Homo sapiens: one gene and its partner. The protein of the gene in region 1 purifies or fractionates together with the protein of each later gene. This does not show direct contact. Each region holds a gene or a part of one and is shown on either strand. Other genes may lie near its edges.

The links.
Region 2: the proteins of ANXA3 (region 1) and TRNT1 fractionate together in Homo sapiens (co-fractionation; one large-scale study listed by BioGRID). This does not show direct contact.

Annotation. Positions count from the first base shown.
Region 1 is NC_000004.12:78,575,645-78,579,467, reverse strand, and holds part of ANXA3 (annexin A3), read right to left. Parts: intron 442-3,823; coding exon 347-441; intron 1-346. UniProt on the Homo sapiens protein: Inhibitor of phospholipase A2, also possesses anti-coagulant properties. Also cleaves the cyclic bond of inositol 1,2-cyclic phosphate to form inositol 1-phosphate.
Region 2 is NC_000003.12:3,136,747-3,140,569, forward strand, and holds part of TRNT1 (CCA tRNA nucleotidyltransferase 1, mitochondrial), read left to right. Parts: intron 1-513; coding exon 514-707; intron 708-3,763; coding exon 3,764-3,823. UniProt on the Homo sapiens protein: Nucleotidyltransferase that catalyzes the addition and repair of the essential 3'-terminal CCA sequence in tRNAs, which is necessary for the attachment of amino acids to the 3' terminus of tRNA molecules, using CTP and ATP as substrates. tRNA 3'-terminal CCA addition is required both for tRNA processing and repair.

The DNA of each region.
Region 1 (3,823 bases):
CTAGAAGTACTCCCCACCATCCTGTTTGTGATCATCAGAATGTCTCCATTCATCCCAAATGTCCCCTGGGGAGCAAAATCACTTCTGGTTTAGAACCCACTGGGCTAAGGCAAACCTTATCCTACAGGTGAAGAAACTGAGGCCCAGAAAGACCAAGTAACATGCCCAAAGCCAGTCAGCTAGTTCAAGGCAAAACCACGACTCAGATTCCAGGCTCCTGACTGGATGCACAGGGCATCTTCTGTTACACTCAGCCTGAAACAGAAGACTGTGGGCATAACCATGTGGGAGCGACCATGGTACATTAATGATCTCTTTACTGCCTGTCATGTTAATGTGACCTTACCTTTCCATATGCTGCTTGATATTCCTTAACAATCAGCTGCCGCTGTGCATTTGACCTCTCAGTCAGAATGCTGATGAGCATTTTCTCATCAGTTCCTAAATGAAACAAAAGTTATTTTACTCAATATTTATGCTCAACATTTGTCTTGAACAAAAGCAAAATGATCAATGGCCTGAGACAAATGCAGAGAGTAAGGCATTTTAATTTCTAGCATCTTATCTGGTTGGAATTTTATTTATTTATTTATTTATTTATTTATTTATTTATTTTGTTTGCCTGAGTTTTGGAAAAAAAAAGTTAACTTTATTTGGATAGTTTTGGGGGGAAGGAAACAATCATTGTCTAAATACTCCTTTCTGTACATCAGACAAAACAACCTACTACTTTTGAACTTGACTTTTTTACCTTTATGAGGTTTGGTTACTGTCTTATTGCCTTTTATCTCTCTCCCATACTTGATATCAAAATATTTCTTCCTCTGGAAAACAGGAACCAACACTTATTGAAAATCTGCCCTGCATGAAACACCCTTTTATTCATTGCCATAGTTAATATTCACAGGGGCCCGCTGTACTAAAGATGAAGACACGAACTTATCTTCCTTGCCAAAGTCACACAACTGCTGAGTGGTCCAGCAAGAAGTTGAACCCAAATCTCTGACCCCAAAACATATATTTCTATCTTTGGTCCACATCTCTCTCATGCATTTCTTCCACATCTCTCTCTCCCTCCCTCCCTCCCTTCCTTCTTTCCTCCCTCTCTCCCTCCTTCCCTCCCTCCCTCCCTCCCTTTCTCTCTCTCTCTCTCTCTCTCTCTCTCTCTCGCTCTCTCTCTCCCCTTCGCCCTTTCTCTCTCTCTCGTTGCCCAGGCTGCAGTGCAATGGCACGATCTCGGCTCACTGCAACCACCACCTCCCGGGTTCAAGCGATTCTCCTGCCTCAGTCTCCCAAGTAGCTGGGATTACAGGCATGTGCAATCATGCCCAGCTAATTTTTTTTTTAATTTAGTAGAGATGGGGTTTCACCATGTTGATCAGGCTGGTCTCGAACTCCTGACCTCAGGTGATCCACCCGCCTCAGCCTTCCAAAGTGCCGGGATTTCAGGGGTAAGCCACCGTACCCGGCCTCTCTCATAAATTTCAAACCCATATACAAAATGAATTGTTTGTAAGCAAAAGGTAACATCAGGCCAGAGCTGATGCTGGCCTGCCTAAGAATGACCTCAAGGTCATTCTTATCTTGGTGACTACAGTAGTAAGAAAAACGTGGAAAGTTGTGTCTAATTAATTTCCCAACCCACGATGATACCTGGTTTGGGAAGCTGTGAATTGGCTTGCAGGCCTAGAGCATGCATGACTAGAGAGGTATAAAAGAGCACCTGGAACTCAATGCTCAACTTCTTTGTGTCAAGGTGACCCTCACAGACCTCATCTACACACTTCCGTGGCAGTGGTACACAGCTTACATCAATGATGAAGCAAAAGCTTCTGTGTACTTGGTTAGCTGCTGGGCCTCCCAATGAAAGATGCTGCCTTTCTGTGTCTTTGGTTTTGTATTCTTACACATAGTTAAATAAATACCGAATCAGATTAAAGTGTATTTGTGCTCTGTGGGTCTGAGCACCAATTTGGTGCTGTGTATTGTACCCAGCATCTGTGTCAGTACACTACCGGCCACCACAACTGCACAAGTATCTGAAACTCAGCACATTCTGGGTGGAATTTATTGTATTTCCTCTCTGACTTGTCTTTCTTTTTATGTTCCCTCATCCACAACTATGGATATAGTCATCCAGGCAAAAACCCTGGGAATCATCTCAGATTCCTTTCTTTATCTTATTCTCTATATTATAGCAATTATCTGCATCTCTTAAATTTGTCGTCTCCTCTGCATGCCCTCTGCTCCTGTGTCCTTATCATATTTTACCTGGATAACCTAAATCACCTCCTAATGTGACTCCCATATAATTATTCCTGTAAACTACTGCCTAAGTAAATGTTTAAAAATACAATCTGATCATGTCACCCCCTTGGCTAAAATTCTAATGGCTCTTTGTAATCTTCAGGATGAAGTTTAAGCCCCTTAGCTCATGTATCAGCTCATTATGATCTCTCCTGCCTTATGTCTTTGTTCTCATTTTCTACCCCCTCTCTGCATCTCTATAACCTATGCACCTAGACTACAACTATACCAAACTACCTGCAGTTATGTGTAGTTTGTATGCCTGGCAGTTTCTCATCTCTTATTTTTAAACATGCCCAAGATCAAAAACTAAGCCAAGATGCCTCAGGTTCAGAGACTGTGTCTGACCCATCCCTAATGCAAACACCGTTATGATACCTCATTCTGAACTCAGAACCTATCAGAAGTGGTGCTCATAAACAATAACCTCCTTCTTAAAGAAGGCCTGTAAGCCAAAGTGCAAATTCATGAAGAAACATAATGTTTAAAAAGAGGTGACAGAATTTAAAGACTATTAACCTCATGAAACAGTCTATTCAACACTAGATATAAATAGGGCAATCAGGCTGGGTGCAGTGACTCACATCTATAATCCCAGGACTTTGGGAGGACAAGGCAGAAGGATTACTTGAGCCCAGGAGTCCAAGACTAGCGTGGGCAACATAGCAAGACCCTGTCACTACAGAAAATTTAAAAATTAGGTACACATTGTGATGAGCATCTGTAGTCCTAGCAACACCAGAGGCTGAGGCCATAGGATCCAGGAGTTTGAGGCTGCAGTGGGCTGTGATCATATCACTGCATTCGAGCCTAGGTGACAGAGCAAGCCCTTCTCTCTTAAAAAAAAAATAAGGAAATCAAGAGATAAATGAAGAAATAACTTACATTGAAAAATGGAAAAAATAAACCTCAAACAGGCAGAAAAAACATAATATTATATTGATATAAAGTTCTAATATAGTATATTTATTGAATTTGACAAGCTGATTTTAAAATTCATAGAGGAGGGCAAAGAGCCAAGAAAGACCTTGCCTGGTAGATATTTAGTGTCATTATAAAATCCTAATAATTGTGACAATGTGGTGTTGGGAGGGCCAAATAGATAAATGAAGCATAACAGAGAAGAGAAAAATAGGGAAGCATAAAACATAGGTGATATTACGTACAAATCAGTGTGAAAAGGAAGAGCTCTTCAATACATTGTTCTGGGACAATTAAATGTCCACATGAAATAGAATAAAATGAGACACCTTTAAATACCATCCATGAACACTAATTCCATGTAGATTTAAGATCATAATACGAAAAATAAAATTTCAAAACTTTGAAAAAAAAAGTAGGAGAATATCTAACTTTATGACTTCGTTATAGAAAAGATTCAATAAGCATAAATCCTGGACAAAAATATTGGTAAACTTGATTTCACTAAAATTTAAAACTTCTATGCAATAAAAATTACTGTAACCAATTGTATTAATCCATTTCACGTTGTTGATAAAGACATACCCTAGCCTGG
Region 2 (3,823 bases), on another chromosome or scaffold:
TGGGCTCAAGCCATCCTCCCACCTCAGCCTCCCAAGTAGCTGGGACTACAGGTGTGCGCCACTGAACCTGGCTATTTTTATTTTTTGTATAGATAGAGTCTTGCTCTTTGCCCAGGCTGGTCTTGAACTCCTGGGCTCAAGTGATCTTTTCACCTCAGCCTCCCAAAGTATCAGGATTACAGATGTGAGCCACTGCGCCTGACCTGCTTTAGTCTTTAGTAATACTTCAAATTTATATTGATCACTTTGAGGCATTGTGGAATTCTGAATTATCTTCTGAATAAGCAAAGAATTCTGCAAGTTCTCTGTTTCCTGTTGGTCCTCAGAGGCACTCTCCTGTAGACAAGTCTTTTTACTTCTTTGGGCCTTGTTCTCATTTTTCATATGAAAAGCCTCAGTTAAATGAATCTCTGCTGTTCCAACTAGATGGAAAAGCCTTGTACTTTTGTGGTTAAAATAAACACATTGAAATAAAGAACTTGGGAATAAAAATCTTATTTTCTCTCATCTCAGAATTATTTGTCAAAGAGAATCACGAATTAAGAATAGCAGGAGGAGCAGTGAGGGATTTATTAAATGGAGTAAAGCCTCAGGATATAGATTTTGCCACCACTGCTACCCCTACTCAAATGAAGGAGATGTTTCAGTCGGCTGGGATTCGGATGATAAACAACAGAGGAGAAAAGCACGGAACAATTACTGCCAGGGTGAGTCAAAAGTTTGACAGGTAATTACATTGCTTTTTTGGTAATTTTTAAAAACTTAATTTTCTCTAGTTAAAAGCAAATAACGAAAAGTCTAATAAAAAAGTCAGTCTCTTCTATGCCCGTCATAAACCCTGCAGTCCTCTGTTCTTGCAGCCATGTTTACTTTTTATGTTACCTCTCCATTTCTAAAAAGACCTTTGTATGCTACGGGTATTTACTTTTCAGTTTTTACTATCCCAGTTTTAAGATGTGTTACGTATTGACTTTCCATAAGGGAAGATGATTTAGCTTTCTTACCACACCCTTCTCAACAACAAGCACGTATAATTCTCCTTCTTCTGTCTTCCTAGTATATTTATATCATAATTTTTGGTTAAGTCAATATTCAGGGTTCACGTTTATGACTCTGTATTGTTTACAGCCAGATTGTGGAGTATATTGTGATGACATTTCTTCTATTGGCATGTTTTTAAATTTTCCTGCAGTTAATGGCATTTTTCTTTTACATAAGCTTTCCATATACTACCAATTTATTCCTGCACTCTGTGCCAGAGCTATAGAGTTCCTCTCAAAAGATTTAAACACATTATATCAAGTTTCAATTGGGTTTTTGGGAAACATCTTACCTGGTGCTGTCTTCCTGCTCCAATATGGACTTTTAGGAATTTCCTTGGCCTCTCTTTTTTGTTAAGCCTCCTGTTTCCTGGGTCCCATGTGCTGTTCTCTCTTGGCTTAAGCCCTCATTTTAATAATCCAAAACCTGAGGAAGCCTTACACGTCTGAAAATGTTTTTATTTCACCTCCATGGTGGTTTGATAGTTACGGTTATAGAATTCTAGGCAGGGAATAATTTTTACTCAGAAATTTAAAGGTATTGTTTTCTAGCTTCCAGTACTGCCAGTAAGTCTAGTTCCATTTAGATTTCTCTTTTGTTTAAAAACCTGATTGCCATTATTTCCTTTTGGAAGTCTTTCTGATCTTTTCATGTCTAATGTTTTTAATTTCAAGATGATATAACTTGTTTTGGATTTTTCACTTACTGTGCAGGGCACTTAGTGGGCCCTCATGTTTCTTTCATAATTTCATCCCTTTTGTTAAATGCTTTTTCCTTTGGAAACTCTTATTATTTGGATCCTGGATTGCTGGGACTGACCTTCTAGTTTTATCTTTTGTCTTTATTTTATATTCTCCTGTCTTACTTTCTATGAGAGTGCCTTAACTTCATCTCCCAGTCATTGTATAATACTGACAACTTCTGTGGTCTTGTAGAATTTCAAGAGGTCTTTCTTAGTATATTTCTTTGGAAAGCTTCCCGTTCATGTTTCAGATGGAAGATCTTTTATTTCTCTTAGGATATCTACTATAGTTATTTTGACAGTGTCTTTGTTTCCTCCGAGTGTTTTCTTTCAGGTTGGCTTTCCTTGAATTTGGGTGATGCTCTGTATCTGAGGGCTTTATTGTAGTTTTGCATGGGAAGTGTCAGCCAACTGGGACTCCCAGTCTAAGTCTCAGTAGGAGTTTTCATTAGGAGAAATCAGAGAAGAATACTCCAGTATTATGCCAGGGAATGAACCTGATTGTTAGCATCTTGAAACCAAGTAGGGAAAGGGATGAGGGTCATGTTAATTTTCACTTGAATCTTGTTTTCATTATGATGCTTCATTCCCATGAGCATCTGTGCCTGGTGCAACAAGTTCTGATTATTTTTGGTTGAACCTTTCTAGAGAATCAGTCCCTGGTTTTCTGCCTCATTAAGGGAGTCATTCTAGGTGGGTCTGATTATTTCTTAAAATGAGTTGCAAACAGTTTTCCTATTTCAAACCTTACCTTATTCTTTGCCTTCAGAGATACTTGTGCCTCAAATTCTTGAGTTCTGGAATTCTATAGTGAGAGATAGATGTAGCTTGTATTTAGAGAAGAGTATGTATCAAATTGAGAGAAATCCTACAACAGACTTCTGGTGATCGTTAACGGCTTTCACTTCCTAAATAAAGACATTCCTAACTCTTGGCACATAAAACACTTTATTCTCTACTCCTAAATGCTAATATGCTACCTGTCAGATATACTTTCTCTTTTACATATATTCCTCTTCCTCCACCGTGCCTTTGGTCATCTCTTCTCTTCATTTGAAGTTTTTCTACCACACCTGCATGTACAAACCCTGCTGCTTTTTCAAGGCTTGGCACAGACGCCACCCTAACATGAAGTTACTCAGCTTCCCCAGCTGGAGGTAGTCTGTCTTCCCAAGATAGAGGTAACTCTTTATTTTAATTTCTTTCTTTCTCTTTTGAGACAGGGTCTCACTCTGTTGCCTAGGCTGGAGTGCACAGTGTGATCTCGACTCACTGCAGCCTCTGCCTCCCGGGGTCTAGCGATCCTCCCACCTCAGCCTCCCAGGTAGCTAGGACCACAGGCATGCACCACCACACCTGGCTGGTTTTTTTGTATGTTTGGTAGAGATGGGGTTTTACCATCTTGCCCAGGCTGGTCTTGAACTCCTGAGCTCAAGTCATCTGCCTGCCTTGACCTCCCAAAGTGCTGGGATTACAGGCATGAGCCACCACCCCCAGCCTTTATTTTAATTTCACTGGGGATTATCAGTAAGGGAGTTGCAAGATCTGTTAACTGTACTTATTCTTTATCAGTCTTTCGCTCAATGGCAAATGTTCCATAAATTGACATTCACCTCTTTGCAAACTGGAGCTATTAAAAATATTTCTGATAATAGCTTGATTTGAAATTGAAGAACAGTTTTGAGTTTGATGTGGAGTTTCTCCACATCACTTGGCAGAGGTGACATGTTTGTGTGTTAAACTCATCTTTTTTAATCATGATGGATTTTTTTTAAAAAAATCAGTCTTTTGATCTGTTTTTGAATAATGTGGATATCTTTCTGTTTCAATGTTTAGGTATGGTAGTTGACGTTAAAAAGACTATAACTGTCAGGGCTTATAGTACCATCCCTTTATAAAGACAAAAACTTATTTTTTTCAATTCAGTAGTATGAAAACCTAATTTAAATGACAACAAAAACCCCATGTATTTAATTGCAGCTTCATGAAGAAAATTTTGAGATTACTACACTACGGATTGATGTCACCACTGATGGAAGA